2 linked regions of the Homo sapiens genome follow. The protein of the gene in region 1 purifies or fractionates together with the protein of each later gene. This does not show direct contact. Each region holds a gene or a part of one and is shown in the gene's direction. Other genes may lie near its edges.

What was found.
Region 2: the proteins of SLIT2 (region 1) and LUM purify together in Homo sapiens (affinity purification with mass spectrometry, with the first as the bait; one large-scale study listed by BioGRID). This does not show direct contact.

Annotation. Positions count from the first base shown.
Region 1 is NC_000004.12:20,254,905-20,258,404, forward strand, and holds part of SLIT2 (slit homolog 2 protein isoform 1 precursor), read left to right. Parts: intron 1-1,767; coding exon 1,768-1,839; intron 1,840-2,963; coding exon 2,964-3,035; intron 3,036-3,500. UniProt on the Homo sapiens protein: Thought to act as molecular guidance cue in cellular migration, and function appears to be mediated by interaction with roundabout homolog receptors.
Region 2 is NC_000012.12:91,102,129-91,105,311, reverse strand, and holds the end of LUM (lumican precursor), read left to right. Parts: intron 1-992; coding exon 993-1,147; 3' UTR 1,148-2,683; downstream 2,684-3,183.

The DNA of each region.
Region 1 (3,500 bases):
CCCCGCCTCCCTGTCTTTGCGAGTCTCTAATGAAGAAGTAAATGCAGACCCGGTGTTGACGGCCCACGCGCTCCTGATGAGGCGCTTCCAGAGTTCAGCGAAGTGGAGCATGGAGGCCGTTCTCTTTGTGAACGCCGAGGCCGCCGCCCCGCGCCAGTCCGGCCGCCCTAGGCACGTTCCGCTCTCGCGGTTGCGTGTGGGCCGGGAGTAAGCGAAGGGCGCGGGGCTAGGCCGGCAGGGGCCAGCGCGTCTGGATTCGTCCCGCGGCCTCTTTGCCCCCGGGGTGTAAGGGTTTCGGGCCGTGGAGAGGAGGCGCTCTGACCCGCACGTCTCCACCCGCGCAGCCCATTGCACTTCAAGTCGCCCTTCTTATCCAACCCATTTCTCTCGCCCTTAGTTTTAAGGCCCAAGTTGAGCCACCTTTTGCTTTGCAAATGGCTCTTCTACCCCCAGCCTCACTAGGTTACCCTTACTCCTTTCTCACCTCTCCGAGCTGGCCAAATCGGGGCTCTACTAGGGGTGCCTTGTCAGGATTCGATCCACATTTGTGTAGGGTGGTGGGTGGAGATTCGTGTTATATCGAATAGCCCAACAATTTTAGGAACAACTGAATGGTACTCTGCTTAGCATGGAGAAGTGGGTTGAGTAGAAAGGAAGAGAAGCCACGCAGAATTCTGTTTTAGCACTTGTCATTTCATGCTATTCAGAACAGTTTAAAGTTTAAGCACGAACATGTCTTACTCAACAAAAAGGGAATGCACTTGGGTGGGTGGGGGTGAGGGGGGAGCGTAGCAATTGAATTTCAGGTCCTTGAAAAAATATACATCCTTATGAGGGATGAACAAAAAGTTTCCAGAAAATAGTTTACTGGGTGCTGACTTGTAAAATTCTATCATTGAAACAGTTTGAATACAGATTTCAAACATGATGTTGTAGAGTCAAAGGTGATATAGAGCTTACTTCTATGAAGAGCATTCAAACCGCAGCAAAGCCTGGTTTTACTTGAAGTGATTGGAACCAGGGCAAGTTTAGATCTTGACCTGAAATGCCAGAAAAGGAGATCGTGACTCCTGAAGGAAAAGTGCTGCAGAAATCTGAACAAAAATGTCAGGGCCTGAATACTATTTCCATTCTTGCCCCTGTTAGTAGTTTTCACTTTACAATCACAGCGGGGTTCCCTGAGCTGCAAATGAAGAATTAAGTTTTAATACAAACAGAATTGTTGGAAGGTAAATGCCTATGAATGCAAGTCTTTGAAGTGCAGTTGTTTTGATGGCACTAATTTTTTTCTGTGCCTTAGGAAGTTTCGCCACCATGCTACCTAAGGACAGTGTTCTGAATTTTTATAAAATTTCTTCCTGAATAGCATGAGAAAATTGGGCATTTAACCTCCTGAAGGGAACTTTTTTTTTGGGGGGGGTGCCTAACAATTATAGTAAAATAGCAGAATACCTGTGAAATTAATATACAATCCTTACAGAAACAAAAATGGAAAGGACTCTCCCATACACAAAACAAACGAAAACTTTTTTGTGATAATGTAACCACTTCATTTTCTTGTCATATGCCAGCAAGAATGAACCTTGTAAATGTGTTGAGTCATGTTAAAAATATCCTTTTAAAGGTTATCCTCTTCTCCTTCCTACATACTTTGTATACTACTTTAGTAATTGAATTAACTTTTAGTTCTGATTTACTCTAAACTTTACTTGAAGCAGGTAAACATAGAAATAAAATGGAACTTTCACTTTCTGGTTTTTCTCTTAGGGATTTAAATGGAAATAACATCACAAGAATTACGAAGACAGATTTTGCTGGTCTTAGACATCTAAGAGTTCTGTAAGTGCATCCTCTGTATTTTTAAATAATTTTTTAAGGTTGCATATTTTGAATCATTACTGGCCTCAGTTTTTATGACTATTCTGATGACAGTAACATAAAACATTTAAAAGGTCATGCTTTCCTTTTTTCTGTGTTTATCATTGTACTACAACATTTAATAAAAATTGGGGCTTTTATTTTAAGGTTGGAAGCATGCCATAGAACCAATAATCCAGAAATGACCTCAGATCTTTGTTATACCATACCCTAAGCGCTTTATGCATATAAAAATGTTGAATAATTGTTTTCACAAAATGAATAAGTAATAAGAAACATTTGATACTTTTAGGATTTGAAATTAACTAAAATATTTAAGTGGATCTGTATTTTATTATTGATAACAAAAGGATTCTTATTTTTTTGCGAAAATCTAATATCAAGCATTAAAATCAACCATTCAAATTTTCAGCAGAGTTTATAATGATACATTAGTCATATTTTGAGTTTTTATATTTTGTGTCTTTGTAGCTTCTATAAAATTGTTGCAATATGATTACTTCTTTAATTAGTGGGTTAAATTAGCTGTGAGTAAACCACCACTTGCGAGTCAATGTAATGTTAAATTGTTCTCACCCACAGGATTGTAAATATTGACATCCCAGTAGCCATACAGTTTTGACCATTGTGCATTCAGTGTTCTAAGTTTTAAGAGACACATTTTGGTCATTACAAATTATTCCAGTTGCTGATGTGTATCCATGTCAGAATTGAAGTATGTATATGATGAATTACTGTATTTTGATTCTTTGGTTAAGTTGAAAACCAGTGTATCAAAGAAAGCTATCAAAGCTTCAGTGTCAAGGATTACTCTTCAGATATACTATTAGTTTAAGGGTCAGAGTTTTGACCAGTAAATCTCATGAGAAACTGCATTTGTATTAAGTTTTGTGATGCAGACACTGCTATTTCCCTTCCATGAGTTCACTCAGATATATTATTATTAAATTTGATATTGGATCTCAAATCAGAGCACAATTTAACTTTATAAAGGGAAAGAGTTTACAAGTTTTCAGTTGCTGAATTGAAATTTATTCAGATGGTGAGTGGTAACATTAAGAAGCATGTTATATTTTGCATTTCAGTCAGCTTATGGAGAATAAGATTAGCACCATTGAAAGAGGAGCATTCCAGGATCTTAAAGAACTAGAGAGACTGTAAGTATTTTCAATTCCAAAGTTATGACAACATAACTGTGTTTTTTAAAAATACTTAAATTTCAAGCATCATGTCTTCAATTTCATGTCTTAGGGTTTGAAATTTTGCAGAAAAAGGAGGATGAATGAGTGGTTTTCAGGTTAATTTATGACAAATAGAGTTCCTGAATAAAAAGTTCTAACTTGTAATTAAGCTCAAAAATACAGTTACTTTCCTGAGACATGTATTTCCTTGATAATCATTGCTTTGGTACTTAAAGATGTACAAGCATTTCTTATTCTTCATTTGATTTGTTTTATTTGCTCATGTAGGAAGAAAGGTGGTACTTTTATTTGCGTTAATGGTGCATTAGGGAAGAGAGAAGTTTTGCTAATTGTTATTTTCATTTTCATGGTGGTGCTTTGTGTGTTATCAGTGACATTTGATGAAATATTTTATATTTTACTAATAAAGATTTACTTTTT
Region 2 (3,183 bases), on another chromosome or scaffold:
AAGATAGATGTGTTATTTCTAACAAGATCAGATAAGTGTTCCAGTGTTGCCCACCTGGGTAAGTGGCAGAGGTAGAATTCCAAGATGGGACTATGCCCATCTTCTTTCCATTTTTCCTCACTTTCTCAAATGTTGGTACCATAGAAAAATCCCTGGAATTAACTGATGAGTTATTTTAAAAAGCATGTGTGTTTGGGGTTCCACTGAAGTCTTTGTTAACTAGAGTTTGAAAATGAAAACAAGATAAAGGACTTGAAAATGTTAATCTAAAATAGACATAGGCAAACATAGTTTCTGTGTATACACAGGTCAGTCAATTCAGTAACACTCTTGGTTTCTATTACAAAGTAAGTCAGTGTTTCATTTGTGGCAGCTTTTTGACCATGGACAAAAATAAACAAATAAACAAAAACATGAGTTCAGATGGTGGACATGCCATGATTAGGTTTTTGCCTTAGAATTTTGATCATTGCTATGGTGTGTGATTGCTGGAATGATTTGGTTTTTGTCTTGGAATTTTTATCATGGTCATGGTATGTGGTTGCTAGAAAATTCTTTATAGATCATCTAGTTAACCCTTCTTATTTTTAGATGTAAAACCAAAGAGTACTTATACTGAGATTGTTCATACAACAATGGGATCCATTTATATTTCTTCAGGTTATACTATTTCAAAAAAGTTGTTAGATAATATGACACACTTATTGAATGCCTTTTTAAAAACAACTTCTAGTAATAAAATAAGTTCTGTTATTTAAAATATTCCACTGAATATCTTGATCTACCATGATTACTCTTTACTAAATGTTACTGTGCCATTTTGGTAGCCTGAAATATGCCTTTAATGGTTGCAAATTCAAACATATACTATATTATGACTTTTCTAAATGGGAAGAGGTCCTATTTTATAATATATTAAACATAAATTTTTTGTATTGTTTTGAGCCAGTGTACTGAAAAATGATTAATGTTTTCTATTCTTTAATTTTTAGAGTTTGACATAAAGAGCTTCTGCAAGATCCTGGGGCCATTATCCTACTCCAAGATCAAGCATTTGCGTTTGGATGGCAATCGCATCTCAGAAACCAGTCTTCCACCGGATATGTATGAATGTCTACGTGTTGCTAACGAAGTCACTCTTAATTAATATCTGTATCCTGGAACAATATTTTATGGTTATGTTTTTCTGTGTGTCAGTTTTCATAGTATCCATATTTTATTACTGTTTATTACTTCCATGAATTTTAAAATCTGAGGGAAATGTTTTGTAAACATTTATTTTTTTTAAAGAAAAGATGAAAGGCAGGCCTATTTCATCACAAGAACACACACATATACACGAATAGACATCAAACTCAATGCTTTATTTGTAAATTTAGTGTTTTTTTATTTCTACTGTCAAATGATGTGCAAAACCTTTTACTGGTTGCATGGAAATCAGCCAAGTTTTATAATCCTTAAATCTTAATGTTCCTCAAAGCTTGGATTAAATACATATGGATGTTACTCTCTTGCACCAAATTATCTTGATACATTCAAATTTGTCTGGTTAAAAAATAGGTGGTAGATATTGAGGCCAAGAATATTGCAAAATACATGAAGCTTCATGCACTTAAAGAAGTATTTTTAGAATAAGAATTTGCATACTTACCTAGTGAAACTTTTCTAGAATTATTTTTCACTCTAAGTCATGTATGTTTCTCTTTGATTATTTGCATGTTATGTTTAATAAGCTACTAGCAAAATAAAACATAGCAAATGGCATCACTGTGTTTGACTTCTTGTGAAATTTCTGTACTTTGTATATAAAATACATAAAACAATAGATTAGAAATCAAAAGATATCTCTGGCCTGCAATATTTTACTGATGTGAACATAGGATTTTCCACTAAATAATTTGTCTACTTCTAGCATTCACTTACAAAGAGTTCTTAAAAACACCTATAATAGGTACTTAGATTTCACAACTTACTTAGATATTTGTCATTATTCCCATTCCTGGTGTTTTTACTGGTTCATATACAATGGTATTCTATTAGATAAGAAGCTGCTATGTGATCTCAGCACTCACTCCTTGGTTGTCAAGAAATGGTGGATAACTCACAGGATTAAAAATGAATGAATATAAAATTTTCTGAAATAGATATTTAAAAAATCATTTTAGCTTGAAGCCAATATGTCTGGATCATAGGTTTTGAGTTCATAATCCAGTAATAACAGCTTTCAGCTTTCTATGAGTATATACAATTCTATACAATGATAAATACTCTGCATATAATTTATAAAAATAACTTCTGTTTTACCTAGTTAACAATAAAACCTATGTGTGGAGCCAAATGTTATGCAGACAAAGGTCTGCTCATCCCATACCAGTGTATATATAGTCAAATATGTGTCTAGTACAAATAAAATGTATCTCTAAGGCATAAAATGTTTTAACACACCACTTTTAGTGAACTCTATCTTATGGTACAGCGGCCTTTCATCAGAGGATCATCATTGAGACTGAGTTGACTGGCAGATATGTGCGATGGATATTACATTAGGTACAATGTGTATTTTTGATTTTCATGAGTTTTCTACATTAAGGTAAATTCCTTAGAGTGTGATAGCAGCCTCAGTTTATTTGTTGGTTTAAACTTGAAATCTACTTTTTCTCGATAAAACTATAATGTAGATGAATTGAAAATGAATTTTCTTTTCCCTGTCTACAAAAGTCACTATCAAGCCTTGGAAACCTATTCTCAAATAGAGGGTAGATAATGTGCCATAAATTCTCTTTTAGAAAGAATGTGATGGAATTAAATGAGCTTTGTCTCTATACTACTTAGAGGAAACATCTTCTCAGCAGACAGTCTGTCTGCATCTTTAAAAGCCTTTGATTTCTCTCTATCCAAAGTCCTATGTTATTCTCATGCCTAAGAAGCAAAACTATGACTTTTAAAACAGCAGTTCCCTTTGTAGTTAATGTTGGTTGACAAAGACAAAGTTAAGCACTTAGTGACACTTTGTTGTAGAAGCATCTGGGAAAGGAATATACCCTGTTTAGGAACAACTCCTCTTTTTAGAGGGAAGACTTCATCTTTTCAGGGCAAAGCTGGAGAAGAGAAGATTCCCACTTACTCCTTCACTCACTGGGCAGCCCTAGTGAGGTGCTGAGGGAAGAAAATCTGGTGAAACTT